Linked DNA regions of Homo sapiens: region 2 is linked to region 1. A link means that fine-mapping ties the variant in region 1 to the expression of a gene that starts in the linked region. Tissue or cell type: whole blood. Region 1 holds a variant in brackets; the other region holds the start of a gene. All regions are shown on one strand. Distances are between the middles of the regions.

Region 1 (8,113 bases):
ATGGTGAAACTCTGCCTCTACAAAAAATACAAAAATTAGCAGGGCATGGTGACACCTGCTTGTAATCCCAGCTACTCAGGAGGCTGCAGCAGGAGAATCGCTTGAACCTGGTAAGTGGAGGTTGCAATGAGCCAAGATTGCGCCACTGCACTCCAGCCTGGGCGACAGAGCAAGACTCCATCTCAAAAACAAAAAATAAGTAAATAAATGAAATAAAACAAGAAAAGCTCAATTCCGCCTAGCTAGCAATTGGAACAACTAATAGTCTAAGAAAGGTTTATTCCATTTCAGAAAGATAAGCTTGCAGAAAGACAGTATGTGAATACATGAAAATCTGTTTTATTTTTAGCTCAATTTTCCAGTAATTTTTAACTCTCTGTTTGAATTTAACTATATAAATAAACCTGTACATACTATTGTATATTGATTATTTAATCATTAATTTCTGTACATGTACTTGTCTTTCTGTGTACTGTCTACTTGTCCTCATTGAGCCAACATATAGATAATGACGTATGATTAAATTAAACCTGCCAACTTCCATGACAGTCAAAGTACTTTTGGAAGTTTTGCCATGCTTTCAATGTGTACTTTATTTCCTATTATAGTTTCTCTCTTTTCATGTTTTATTTCCCTTAAGAAACATTTATTTTACTTTATTTTGGAGGAAAAGTCTTACCCTGTCACCCAGGTTGAAGTGCAGTGGCATGATCACAGCTTACTGTAACCTCGGGCTCCAGACTTAAGTGATCCTACTGCCTCAGCCTCCCAATGTGCTGGGATTACAGATGTGAGCTACCATGCCTGGCCAATTTACTTTAAAAAGAAGCATTTGTTTGTTTGTTTGTTTGAAATGTTATGATATTTTAACATACAATGCATTTCATCTCATGATAGCATTTTCATTGAGAGGGCAAATTTTATAATATCCCTAGGATTTATGTAAAGTTGAATTTATATTAAGTTGCCCTACTTAATTGTATATTGCTCCCTCCTTTCTTGGTTCTGTGTGTTTAGAAACCTCTGACTGGAAAGATATAAGTGCAAACTTGTCACTATAGTCTGAATGCAGAAATTGTGGGGATTTTTTTTTCATCCCATATACACACATTTTGTGTGTATTATATACTAGTGAACATAAAATTACATGGTATTAAAATTATGAATATATACTACATTTTTAAGGAACTCAGTCCAGTGGAAATACTAATAAACATCAGTGATAATGCAATGTAATAAATGATATAGATGAAGTGTGTATAACAGGTTCTTATACAGTTCAGAATTATCCTCTTGCTTCAACACAGTGACTGCTTCACAAGATAGGGTAGGAAACATGATTTGTGACCTGTCTGAGAAAACTCTTCCACATATCTACAAAATTTGAATTTACACTATGGTGTATAGTAATATATGTTGGCATACAATATTATTCTATGGATAAAATTAAAATGCATATTCTATTTTATTCTGTAATTATATACCATAAAACTATTGACCAAATGGAATATTGAAGAACATGTCATTTGTCAAATCATTCCTATAATGTGCAAATAATTTTTGTTTTTTAGGATGGTTGATGTGAGGTTTTTTAATTTGTTTTGGCTATGTTTAGATATTTCACATCTGTTAGTCTGAATTCAAATAATGAACCACATTGAAGTCTTCCTTCATAGTCCCATTAAATGGAGAGTCAGCAGATGTTTCTTAGTCTAAATGAGTAGGGAATTTCTTTTTTCTTTTTCTTTTCTTTTCTTTTCTTTTTTTTTTTTTTTTTGAGATAGAGTCTTGCTCTGTCACCCAGTCTGGAGTGCCGTGGCACGATCTCGGCTCACTGCAACCTCCGCCTCCTGGGTTCAAGTGATTCTCCTGCCTTAGCCTCTCGAGTAGCTTGGATTACAGATGTGCACTGCCACGCCTGGCTAATTTTTGTATTTTTAGTAGAGATGGGGTTTCACCATGTTGGCCAGACTGGTCTTGAACTCCTGACCTCAGGGGGGAATTTCTATTTATATCAATAATATTTTCCATGATGCTGAATTCTCCACATACTTCTACTGAGCTAAGCTCAACTGCATTTGTAATTTGTTTAACCTTTATCATACTGTCTGAATTTTTATATTTCTAATATCATCTAAGTCATGAGAACAATTTATTGGAATGTGATTTAGTTAGTTGGTTAACATTTATAATTTATTTTTTTCAAACATCTTATCCAAGTAGATGTGTTAAATTTTATATGCTTACACTTTTTGTGTAAGTAGATGTACTAATTTTTGTATAACATTTTTAGAAAATTTAATACCTTTCCATCTTAGGCTTGATGCAGTGTTTTGTGTGTTTTTTAAGACTTATTCATTTTTATAATAGAGTTTGCTTCACTTTCATATTTTATTTTCTTTAATCTAATTTAGTGAGTCTAAGATACATTGTGGTATAGTTTGGCTCTGTCCCAAACCAAATCTCATCTTGAATTGAAGTTCCCCTAATCCCCACATGTCATGGGAGGGACCAAGTGGGAAGGTAATTAAATCATGGGAGCAGTTGCACCCATGCTATTCTCATGATAGTGAGTGAGTTCTCATAACATCTGATGGTTTTATAAGGGGCTTTTCTCCCTTTACTTGGCATTTCTCTGTCCCGGCCACCCAGTGAAGAGGGACGTATTTGCTTCCCCTTCTGCCACGATTGAGACCTCTGCAGCCATGCAGAGCTGTGAGTCAATTAAACCTCTTTCCTTTACAAATTACCCAGTCTCGAGTATGTCCCTATAGCAGCATGAGTACGGACTAATACATATTGTTTTTTACATTTTAATGTCTCTGAAATTAGCATGCCTCTCAAAATATATGAAGTCTTACAGTCACTGCTGGCCAGGAGACAGTTGCAATGTGCACATGCGTGACCTTGATTTTCACTGGTGCTAGTGTCACTGCTTCAGTGAAGTTATGTACATTGTTGGTCCTGCATGTTTTACTCATCACATCATTTAGACACCGTCATAGGATGGAATGGAAATTCTCTGATCCTGTTTTTTTCCCCACAATTTTTCTAATCCTGTTTTAAAAAAAAATCTATGAGACTTTTACAGATCAAGAAATCACCATCAAAAAACTCTAAATAATGAGCATCAGAAGCTACAAAGAAAATCTTGGAGACATTAGAGGGGCACTCTTTTTAAAAAAATGGTACATGACTATTGTTCTTTATGGCACAGAAAACAATATTGTGTTGAAAACAATTATGGTAATGATAAGTATGTTTTGTCTGCTTTATTGACACTAATAAACTTCTTAATATTTTATTTTTATGTTTATTTTATTGTGTGAAATCAGTTTTATTTAAATGTATTTTCTTTTCCTTCCTTCCTTCCTTCCTTCCTTCCTTCCTTCCTTCCTTCCTTCCTTCCTTCCCTTCTTTTCTTCTTTTCTTTCTTTTTTTTTTTTCAGAGTCTCTCTCTGTTGCCCAGGCTGGAGTGCAATGGCGTGATCTCGGCTCACTGCAACCTCCGCCTCCTGGGTTCAAGTGATTCTCCTGCCTCAGCCTCCCAAGTAGCTGGGATTACAGGTGCCCGCCACCACACCCGGCTACTTTTTGTATTTTTAGTAGAGATGGGGTTTCACCATGTTGTCTAGGCTGGTCTTGAACTCCTGACCTCAGGTGATCCACCCACCTCGGCCTCCCAATGTGTTGGGATTACAGGCGTGAGCCACCATGCCTGGCCATAAGTATACTTTCCGCTTGATGATTGCACTTTTTGTTTTCTTTGAATCATATGCTTAGATAGAACATCATTACCATTCTGTTACAATGGAGATTTTAACATGTTCACACTTGAAAATATCAATTTTGAATTCCATTTGCATCTATAATTATATCAGGTTTAAACTCACATACAATAAACTATATACGACGGATAATGTGTCCTCTATTATTCTACCCATAAACAAAGTAAATGTATTTCCAAACATGGAGTCATTGGCATCAGCCAACCGGTGGGGGAGATTCTAAATTAGGCTTAACAGGGGACAGGGGAGTTGCTAACATCCCTTACAGTAAACTACTGAGGCAGTCCTTGATTCTGCCACATTATGAGGATTTTATACATAAGGTATTTCATGAAAGAAAGAGAAATAGTAAAACTGCACCAAAGGAGAAACAGTATTGAATTGCAAACAAAGAAGACAGAAGAAACAATAACAACAGTTAACAATGCTTTCTCATTCAATCCCTAGAAAAACCTTGTGATGAGGATACTTTTATCCCCTTCATTTTACAGATGTGGAAAAAGTAGATTAGGGAATTCAACTGGACCAAAGTTATAAATATAGTAAGTGACACAACTCAAACTAATATCTTGCCTTCTCTGGTATCAAACTTGTGCCCTTATCATATATCAAAATGCTTCCAAGAAAATTAAATATACGGTTTGCAACCAGTGGAGAAACTCTTGGGGAAATCGTCAATTTTTTAAAAAAGAATTTATTGAGAAGCATCCTTGAAACAACTTGAAAAAAGAGTAAGAAATTATTTCATACTTAATTTTCTACAAAGAACAAAATAATGAATCTCACATTTATCACACATATGCAGTGAGAAGGACTCCTGGAGGCTG[T/C]AGCAGTCAGTGCCTTTCACACAGGAAGGGACCCTTACTCTGAGCTCTGCTAAGCAGAAGGGTGGTAGTGTCCCATGGTGGCTCGTAATGCATTTCTTGACCCAATGACTTCCTTTGTGGTTTCATCAGAGTTCGCAGGAGCTGCCATCACTCTAGCTTTATGGTTTTCAACTCTAACAAAGTGAGGAGTATAGTAGTCCTTTTGTTTTCTCGAAGACCATTAGGATCACTTGTTGTACATACGTTGTCCGTCATGCTCAGATTTCCTAGGAATTCAACTTCTGTCCTGAGTCTCTGCCTTTATTTCTATCCTGGTGCGTTAGGCTGTCAACCTAGAAGGAAACATTTACATCCCCTCAACCACTCTCTCTCTTAAGTCCTTACCATTTCCCAAGGTGGTGATAACGTTTTGCTTTTTTTTTTTTTTTTTTTTTTTTTTAGGGGGGCTGTTATGAGTGCTGGAAACCAAGAAAGGATGAGCAAAGAAAAAAGTTCCCCTGAGTCATTTGGCCCCAAACATTTTAGCATACCCAAAGGCGCCAGAGCCCTTTCAGTAACATGTATTATTCCTGTTAAAGATCCTTCCCCTTGGTTTGGGTTCTGTAGCTAGACAAAGAGAAGGTTAAGAACATCTGCTTCTGTGTCACATTGTTCCAAACTTTTCTTTTCTTTTCTTTTCTTTTTTTGAGACGGGGTCTCACTCTGTTGCCCAGGCTGGAGTGCAGTGGCAAAATCTCCCGCTCACTGCAACCTCTGCCTCCTGGGTTCAACTGATTCTCCTACCTCAGCCTCCAGAGCAGCTGGGACTACAGGCTCCCGCCACCATGCCAGGCTAATTTTTGTATTTGTCCCAAAGTTTTCTGCTTGACCTAGATAAAACTTGGGTATTAATTTATCAGTTACCTTTTAAACACATTTTAAAATTTACATTTGCAACACCCCTTTGATTATTAACTTCCATTATATGTTGAGGCAAGTCAGTACGAAGTGGTTTCAAAGTCACATAATACTTTAAAAATGGATAGCGTATTAAGGTAATATAAAGGGTCTTGGGTCTGTGAAGCTAGAGAAGATCCAGACCAGGAGAAAGTCTCAGGTATTTAAGAGCATGTTTTCTGGTTAAGGAAAGGATAATTGAAAGCAGCCGCAAGTGCCATGTTTCGTTCATTTACCATCATTATCAACGACTTATTTAATGTAGTCATAATTTTGTAATCGGGATTTCTGAAGTTCCATAAACTGGAGCTAACATATGTTGCCTCACTAGCATTAACTACAGATGTTAACATACTAACCTTTCACTCTGGAGTTTGGGACAGTGAGTGATTATTTGTTATTATACTATTTTCTTTTTGAGATGGGGTCTCACTCTGTTGCCCAGGCTGGAGTGCAGTGGTGCGATCCTGGCTTACTGCAACCTCCGCCTCCCAGGTTCAAGCAATTCTCCTGCCTTGGCCTCCCGAGTAGCTGCGATTACAGGCAAGCACCACCAAGCCGGGCTAGTTTTTGTATTTTTAGTAGAGATAGGGCTTCACCATGTTGTCCAGGCTGGTCTCAAACTCCTGACCTCAGGTAATCCTCCGGTCTTAGCCTCCTAAAGTGCTGGGATTACAGGTATGAGCCACCATGCCCAGCCCTTTTATGCTATTTCTTTGGCAAACACAAAAAGGAATGGTCTGGTCCAGTGGTCCCCAAACTTTTTGGCCCCAGGGACCGGTTTCATGAAAGATAATTTTTCTATGGATGGGAGCAAGAGGGGGATGGTTTGGGATGGTTCAAGTGCGTTACATTTATTGTGCACTTTATTTCTATTATTATTACATTGTAATATATAATGAAATAATTCTACAACTCACCGTAATGTAGAATCAGTGGGAGCCCTGAGCTTATTTTTGTGCAACTAGATAGTCCCATCTGGGGGTGACGGGAGACAGTGACAGATCATCAGGTATTGGATTCTCATAAGAAGCACACAACCTAGATCCCTCGCATGTGCAGTTCACAACAGGGTTTGTGCTCCTATGAGAATCAAATGCCTCTGCGGACCTGACAGGAAGCAGAGCTCTGGTGGTAATGCCAGCAATGGGGAGTGGTTGTAAATATAGGTGAAGCTTTGCTCACTCATTCCCTGTTCACCTCCTGCTGTGCTCCAGGTTCCTAACAGGCCACAGTACCGGTCTGTGGCCTGGGGCTTGGGGACCTCTGGTCTGGTCAATTACACATTTCTCCTGAATTCTGGAGAGACAACATACCAGTTCCTCAGAGGAAACAAAGATTTTCTTAAAAATCACATCAAATTAAATTACTGCTTTTTGCTTATTGAAGTGGATAATCTTACTCTTGTTTTTGTCATTGAAAAGACACTAGGCCAGGTATGGTGGTTTACACCTATAATCCCAGCACTTTGGGAGGCTGATGTAGGTGAATCCCTTGAACTCAGGATTTTGAGACCAGCTTCAGCAACATATTTATGTTCTATAAATGTATGTTCTATAAATAATACAAAAATTAGCTGTGTGTGGTGATGTGCAGGTGTATTACGTATTTTCTATAAATAATACAAAACTTAGCTGGGCGTGGCGATGTGCACCTGTAGTCCCAGCTGCTTGGGAAGCTGAGGTGGAAGAATCACTCAAGCCTTGGAGGTTGAGGCTGCAGTGAGCTGTGATTGCGCTACTGTACTCCAGCCTGAGCAACAAAATGAGAACTTGTCTCCAAAAAACAAACAAACAAACAAACCCCACCACATTCTCAAGTTATAAGAAGTTAGTTCTTCTTCCCTCATGTTACTTAAGATTTGAATTCATGATTGTATAGAATCATTAGTTGTCTTAAACAAGCAAGGGCACTAAATGAATGACCATTACAGGGAAGACAGTAGATTCCATGAGAGGATGTGTCTTGAGAATGTATATGAACATGAAGACTTCATCTTTGAGAAAGAGGAATAACTTTCAGAGGAAGGTGATTCAAGTGAACCAAGACATGACACTGAAGAAGAATGGTGGGGGTGGTAGGGAGTAAAACTATCGCAGCTGTGTGTACACAAAAGGGAATGAACCAGGGTTGGGAGTGCAGTGGTGTGAGTTGTGACTTGGGCCTAGAATGCTTGATTGAACATAGCATTACTGGCTTTGCTGTCCTGAGTGAGTCAGTGGGCAGTTGTAAAAAAAAAAAAAAAAAAGATGAATAATTTAACTTTTAATAAACAAAGTTTGACAATCCTCTGCATAAAACATTTCTTATCTAATGCTTTTAATATTTTTTTATCACTAGTTTTGAAGAACTTAATTATAATGTACATGTAAGTAGATTTTCTTATGTTTCTTTTGCTTGGGGTTCGTGGACTTTCTAGATCTATATGCTTATAGTTCTAGCAATTTGGAAACATTTCAATTTCAGTATTTAAATCTCAGTTTTCAACTGTAAGTTCTTTGAATACTTTTTGCCCCCTCCTATGTATCCAGAGACTGCTTTTAGGCGTACGTTGGGCCCCTT
Region 2 (8,113 bases), 59 kb after region 1:
GGATTGGATTGTCAAATCAGTATCACAAGCATCCTCAGAGATTTCACCCAGTATCATGCTTTACTCATAATTTCAGTTATACAATAATTGTGAGATGCAGACAAAACAGTGGAAAACCCAGGCCTGCAAAAGCACCCACTCATTCTTACTTTCCCCTTAGGACACACTCTGGCCCAGACAAACAGATAAACATATGAGGTCTCTTAATGGTGTTTGTGGCTGCACCGTTTACACAAAAGGAGATGTTTTGGTTATGACACATCTCCATTTTATACTCAGATGGTTACATGGTTATGGTTACACATAGCTTATGTGACATTTTTCCAGGAAGCCAGCCTCCATAAACCCACAGATTCTAGTTTTATGCTTTTTTTTTATATAGTGTGTTTTGCTCTTGTCACCCAGGCTGGAGTGCAATGGTGCGATCTCAGCTCATCAAGTTCAAGAGACTCTAATGCCTCAGCCTCCCAAGTAGCAGGGGTTACAGGTGAGTGCCACCATGCCCGACTAATTTTGTATTTTTAGTAGAGACAGGGTTTCTCCATGTTGGCCAGGCTGGCCTTGAACTCCTGACCTCAGGTGATCCACCTGCCTTGGCCTCCAAAAGAGCTGAGATTACAGGCGTGAGCCACTATGCCCAGCCTTAGTTTTATTTTTTTATTTGATTTTACCACTAACAATTTTAGACAATCTAATACATCCTGCTAAAATCATTCCATTGATAAGGATTTTGCAAGCAAAACACACTATATATAAGAAACCACTATAGCTAGTAGGTTTGTTATTAGCATGTTTACAATGAGATTTTACCAGGTCAGTAACGTCTTTTGTTTTTTCTCAGGGAGCCCTCTCTCTCTGTTAAAAGAATAATTTGCAGCCTGATGTGAGCAATTTTCTTTCCGCTCAAAGAATGCATTTTCTAAAAGCAGTGAGATCAAAATAAATTTTTCCCTTGGGGATACTAGAACGTATACTGTTATTTTGTTCTGCAACATTTTAGTTATACATTTTTAGGTAGGGAAAAGACTTCACTGTTTATATGTTAAGTGAACATTAGTTTCTTTTCCCTGGCTTTTGACTAAGGTTTAAAAGTTGACTTAGCTATTGAAGTCATCACTTGCTCTTACCAAGGGCACTAGTAAATTGCAGGGGAGGAAGAGGGCATCTTCCTGCAATGGATACTAGGGGATGGAAAGTCCTGCAAAGAGAGACGTTCTTTTGGCAGGATACCTAACTTTTCAAAAGCAAATTTATGTAAGTGAAGCTGGATATTTCAGCGGAATTTAGTCTGGTTTCTCTCGGCAGCACACTCAGAGAATACTTTGAGTAGAAACTTTATTTGGAATTGTGTATGCAATAAATGTAGGAAAGGAAATGTAATAGGAAAGGGAAAGTGGAACGCAATAAAGGTTATTTTCTTAATCTAGCTTCTAGAGGAGGTGACTGGAACATAACACTATTGAGTAATTCTGGGAACTGGGCAAAACACAATGTTCAGAATTACCTGACTTTAGGGCTGAGACTGCTGGACTGTATAGCAAATCACAAGATTCGTTTGTTGACGCCCATTCTGGTGATGATTATTCAGCACTTCCGGATTAGCATGTCTGAGAACAGCAAGGCTTTCAGCAGTTATTGGAGAAAAAAAGAACCCATAGATACAGCTATACAGATAACTAGTTGGCCATAGTTCCCCAAATATTCCAAGGGACATAGGCGAGGCAATGATAACTTCAGGAACAAGTGGAGATGAGTGGGAGAGATACAGTACATGGAAATCATTCACCTGTCTACGTACAAAAATAAATAGAAAGAACAGAGGCCGGGCACGGTGGCTCACGCCTGTAATCCCAGCACTTTGGGAGGCCGAGGCGGGCGGATCACGAGGTCAGGAGATCGAGACAATCCTGGCTAACACGGTGAAACCCCGTCTCTACTAAAAAAAAAAAATACAAAAAATTAGCTGGGCGTGGTGGCGGGAGCCTGTAGCCCCAGCTACTCGGTAGGCCGAGGCAGGAGAATGGCGTGAACACGGGAGGCGGAGCTTGCAGTGAGCCGAGTGAGCCACTGCACTCCAGCCTGGGTGACAGAGACTCCATCTCAAAAAACAAACAAACAAAAACAAACAAAAAAAGAACAATCAGAGTTGGCAGCTCAGAAAGAGTTAAAGAGGTATATACATATATGTTTACTGTGTGTGTGTATGTGTGTGTGTGTGTGTGTGTTTAGGTATCTTAAATATTTAAGCCTGGAGTTCTTGAAGTAAACTTGTATTTGTTGGATTTTTATTTCTAAGTCAGTGAACTAAGATGAAAAAAAGGACAATGACTGATGGACGTATTCTCACCAAACAGGGTTCTAAAAACTTAGAACCTCTAACTTCCAAATAAAGGTGGTTGTGTTAGTAATGAAAGTGTAGTAATAATCCCTATTGCACATTCTGTCATAAATTTGTACTCTCTCAAGAGAAAAACTAAAAGCAAACCCCTAATCTCCTATATTTTGAGGCAATTTTACATGGGGGAAAAATAGTATCAGACAGGTTTCTTCCAGACCAGCTTTTTCTAACACTAAAAATGAATAGATTTCAAGTAAGCAAAGGATTTTTAAATAAATCACTTCAACTAAGATTTGCATACAGTCTGGATGAAGTAGATTTTACGCTTATATTCTTCAGTGAGGATTTATAGCTCAACAAATTTGTTGGTGCAATGAAAGCAGCTCTAGGCACACAATGCAAACTGAAAAGATGGAAAGTTTTGACTTCATAAAAACTGAGAAGTCAAAGTAGTCTTTTCTTTCATTTTTTTCTGTTGTTGGTTGAAAGCCCATCTTTTACAAAAGGGTTTATCTATAGTAATATTATAATGCTTGAACATAAACAATATACAAAATATAATACACAAAACGTTTATTTGAGTGTCTGCTTTTGTATGGGGGTGCATGGTAGATTGTATTTCCAGATACTAAATCATGGATCGAAATCTCTCCTTTCAAGATTCTTATTATAGCCAATCTCTTCCACATTGGAAATTTGACCTGTTCCACATTTGATATTCCTATTAACAAGGTTACTCTTCTGTAGATGAAAAAGTGTATATCGAAGTATCAGTATAGTATCTGAATTAGATAACACACTAAACAATATAATAATGTATTAGTAAAAATAAGGAAAATAAAGAAGCTGAAGTCGTGCTTAAAGAACTTTAAGAAAATGAAAATTGAGGTGTTGAAAAAAGCTTTTAAGGCTAACGTGAATGAGGCGTCCAAGTGGGAAACCCATCCAGTTCTACTTTTTTGAACTTTGCCTGTCGTGGCCAGGATAATTAGGTAGAGATCAGAAGAACAGAGTGAGACATGGAAATCCCAATTTATGTGACCTTGGGCAAATTACTTAGCTCTGTATGCCTCAGTTTTCTCTTTGATAGATTGAAGATATTTATATATCTTTACTATCAAGCCATTTACAGAAATAAATGAGCTAAGATATGCCAAGTGCTTTAAATTGTGTTAAGTACAAGGTAAATAATAAATGTTTATTATTAAAAGAGGAAAATTCTGTAAGTAATTTTGTTATGCTAAGTAAATTTACCTTTGGTTTGCCCATCATTTCCTTCATTTTCCAGATAACCCTTTAAAATGAATTTGATTTTCAAACAATAAAAAACAAAACAGCAACAAAACTCCCTCTGACCTCCTCTCACCTTCTTTAGTCCTTGCCAAAGTGTTAATATTGCAAAAGTACTGTGAGAATTTCCTGTATTGTGGTTCCTGGAACACTTCAGAGGCTTGTGATTCTACTGCTTCTTATTCACACTATAATACATGTCTCACCAATAGATGATTCAAGAACATCATTTAAATACACAATTTTTCATTCTCTATTTTTGCTAAATTTCTTCATACTCAACTTTCAGATTCTTTAATCTCCAGCTCAGCTTCAACAATTCAACGCTGTTCTTTCTGAAAAAGTACACATCGTGCCTTCTCTACTTCGCTCTTGGAACATAATTTCTCATGGCAGGTATGTGTGATTTCAGTCACTAAATTAAAAATAACCAGAAAAGCTATTTCTTGGATTGGCTGATTTTGGGGTAATGCTTTAAGAGAAAAGGACATGATTAACAGTGGATGTTTTTAGGATTTTCATGCATTAGCACTTTCCACATTCATTATATTTTCCTGATTCTTCATTGTATAACTTAGACATGATTTCATGAAGTTTTTTCCACAGGTTTGAAGAGTGGTTTCTGACAGGGCTACCTTTAAATTCTGAGTGAGAACTGAACTTTAGCCTGGTTAAATTGTGAGCAACAGTGTTCTAGTATAGCAATAGAAAATGCCAAATATTAATGACACAATGCTGAAAAGGTTTTAATTGACTATTTATGTTGTGACATCCAAAAATTACACAAATGAACAGTTTGACACATTGTACTGTTGTTAATGACATCACTCTTTGAGAGTGTGTTCACGTTAGCACAGAATCTCCTAATGTTGAAATGTTTTAGGTGAAAGGCCTAAAAGCAAGTAATTTTGAGTATGAACAAATGGAATGTTCTAGGGGAAAAAGGATTGTTTATGTATGTTCAATATACTGTGAAATGAAGCCAGGCCTCAAAGTTGTTACCCATCAATTTGTTATCAGTTATCACACCAAGTCCAGAATGTTCCTATGTCTTCTTTTCCCTATAATATCTCTACGAACCAATGAGCAGCTAGACATTTATCAGAGCAAAACCTGCACTGAGATGAGGAGAGGGCATACTCTCAACTAGTATTATTGTGACAATGGTAGACTACGTTGAATGAAAGATTCTTGAGCTAGACACACTTTCATGTGATTTCTGACTTGGATACTTACTTGCTTTGATACCTTGAGAAAATAACATTATTATTGGACCTTATGTTTTCTCATCTATGTAATGAGAACCATACTATCTATCTTGTGATTTTGTTGAGAGAATAAAAATAAATGCCTGTTATGTAAGTCCATAAAACACAACGTGGTGCTTGTTAATATCTTCTACCTCCAGATCTTTAAGCACCTCTGCCAATTTAAAATAAATGGTAAATTCACTTTACTGCAACAGAGCTGGTAGAGAAGAAAATGTTTGAATAATCTTCCTGAAGAATAAGATACATCACATAAAAATGTTGGTATTGGGTGAAGTCCCGATTGGAAAGTCTTCAGTGTTTTATTGGCAAGATGACTCCGTTATCAAATGAAAGAATGTTGTGGATTCTCCGTCACTAGTTTCTGCTTTTAAGAACTCAGCTCCTGAGTTTGCTCTTTAAGTCATTACTCTGTCTGTCTTTCTCTACAGTGTTTAAGACCACTCTGTGGAGGTTAATTTCTGGGACCTTAGGGATAATATGCCTTTCGTTGATGTCTACGTTGGGAATTTTGTTGAAAAATTGTAAGTTTTTCTAAGCAAGTCTCCATAAAAATCAAAACTGTGAAGACATCATTTAATAATAAAGGCTTCATCTTGCTAATGTGTAATATTTTAGTATTTCATAAACCCATACCTAATTAAACAAATTTCTAATCATTTCTTATAGCTTTTACTAAACTGAGTATTGAGCCAGCATTTACTCCAGGACCCAACATAGAACTCCAGAAAGGTAGGTCACATTTTTTGGAAAACTTAGCATTGGTAAAAGATTAAATAGGCAGTTTCTTGTTTTTCACACAGAGAGGCATGATGGAATATTATACTTAGTAATAGAAATTTGCCTACCAGTGTAGGATAGTCTCATTTTACATTGCTCAATCTAATGTAAAAATGATTAAATTACACTGAATGTGTATCATTTGTACATTTAACTAATCAGGAAAATAGTAGCCTGAAACGAAAGATATGTTTCCTATATGAGTGCTCATAATTAAGTAACAAAAAATAAACCACAGGAAATGTTACAGTTAATCCTCATTACCTGCCTGAATTTGCTTATAACCTATACTTTTGCATCTCACTACTTTTCCTTTTCCAGAATATACTGCACAGATTTCTAAACCTTACTTATCCAGTGAAAGCCAGCTCAAAGTCCAATTTTCGTTTTTGGAGATGGAGTTTTGCTCTTGTCGTCCAGGCTGGAGTGCAGTGGCACGATCTTGGCTCACTGCCACATCAGCCTCCCTGGTTCAAGTGATTCTCCCACCTTCCTGCCTCAGCCTCCCAAGTAGCTGGGACTACAGGCGCCCGCCACCATGCCCAGCTAATTTTTGTGTTATTAGTAGAGTCAGGGTTTCGCCATGTTGGCCAGGCTGGTCTCGAACTCCTGACCTCAGGTCATCCACCTGCCTCGGCTTCCAAAGTGTTGGGATTATGCCGTACCCAGCAGAGCCACTGCGCCCGGCCTCAATTTTCTAAATATGTATTTTTCGGAATGCGCCCCAAGTTGTCTCACCATCATCTTGATTATATAGTGTTTATTTACAGTGCAACATCTTGGCCAGGCACAGTGGCTCACGTCTGTAATCCCAGCTCTTTGGGAGGCTGAGGTAGGCATATTACTTGAGGTCAGAAGTTCAAGACAGGCCAACCCCGTCTGTACTAAAAATACAAAAATTAGCCAGGCATGGCGGCACGCACCTGTAGTATCAGTTACTCAGGAGGCTGAGGCATGAGAATCACTTGAACCTGGGAGGCGGAGGTTGAAGGGAGCTGAGATGGTGCCACTGCACTCCAGCCTGGGCAACACAGCAAGACTCTGTCTCAAAAACAATTAAAAAATATAAAAATAATAGTGCAACATCTTCAGCACTACTTATATGGCAAAGATTTGAGTGCCTATGACGTGTCATGTTTTTATTACCGTGGGTAACAAACGTTGAAGACACTATTATTGATAAACTGTATAATTAAGCCTCAAGATAATTGGTTTATTTATATTCCCTTTTCAAAAATAAGATATCCAAACATATATCAAAATTCTCCAAATGTACCATATTCTTTTCTGACTCAGAAAGTATGCTAAAATGTTTTCCTCCTTTAAATCTTTTTCATCTAGTTAACTCCTATTTATGCTACAGTACTTAGTTTTGAGTCACTTCCTCAAAAAAAGGTTCTTGTAACTGCCCCTCATCTTACACTCTGCTACATGCTGTTTTAACATACTTAATTTTTTTGTACTTATCTAAATCATCACTAAATATCGTTAATAAATTATTGAAAATTATATAATTGTAATTCTATCTCTAGAATATAATCTCCATGAGGAAAAAGCATCATGTTCATGTCTAATTAGTTCACATTAGTAGCCCCTGAAGTGTGGTGTATACAGTAGATTCTGAATGTTAAAAGAATACACAGCAAATAATTTTTGAATAATTAAATAGCATTGAAAAAAATGTCTAGTCTCCAGTGTCATTAGTCATGCTTTATGTTTTCTGTCAGACTCTGACTGCTGTTCTTGCCAAGAAAAATGGGTTGGGTACCGGTGCAACTGTTACTTCATTTCCAGTGAACAGAAAACTTGGAACGAAAGTCGGCATCTCTGTGCTTCTCAGAAATCCAGCCTGCTTCAGCTTCAAAACACAGATGAACTGGCATGTGCTGAGTCTGATTTTCTACATTTTCTTTGATCTAGAAAAATATACTATCTAAACAAGTTAAATACTTTGGTTTAAGTCATTAATCACATAGTAAGTGGATGGTTATATTGGAATTGAGTTATCTGTTCTGTGTACCTTAAAGTAGTCATTGTAAAATCTTTATTAAATTCCTTAATGATTATATCATGGGAATACAAATCAAGATAGGTGCCAAATAAAGTGAAAGAAACTTTTCAGGAAGAATTCAAAGAAGATAATAGGTCATTATATTTACCCATTTTATTTGAAGAACCAACTAAATGACTGTGATTCTTAACTCTTTTAATTGAATTTATAATATCTTTTATAATTTTATAGTTTTTGTCATCTTTCTGGGATATAAGCTAGTATGGAAATATGGTAAGAAAACGTACCCAATTCTTTTCTTTTCTTTTTTTTTTTTTTTTTTTGAGACAGAGTTTTACTCTGTTGCCCAGGCTGGAGTGCACTGGTGCAATTTCAGCTCACTGCAGCCTCCACCTCCTGGGTTCAAGTGATTCTCCTGCCTCAGCC

The links. PIP is the estimated chance that this variant, and not a neighbour inherited with it, causes the effect.
Region 2: it holds the start of KLRD1, and the variant in region 1 is fine-mapped to the expression of KLRD1 in whole blood (TOPMed, PIP 0.99).

What each region holds. Positions count from the first base shown.
Region 1 is chr12:10,245,174-10,253,286 of GRCh38, forward strand. It overlaps a transcript of KLRD1 not described here. Among named protein-coding and RNA genes, the nearest start is that of GABARAPL1-AS1, 34 kb to the left of the region's middle. The variant T/C (reference allele first, on the strand shown) is at 4,616.
Region 2 is chr12:10,304,061-10,312,173 of GRCh38, forward strand. KLRD1 (killer cell lectin like receptor D1) reads left to right here and starts at 3,810. Exons shown (of 6, transcript NM_002262.5): 1 at 3,810-4,024; 2 at 5,328-5,420; 3 at 5,566-5,628; 4 at 7,404-7,555. The coding sequence starts at 4,018.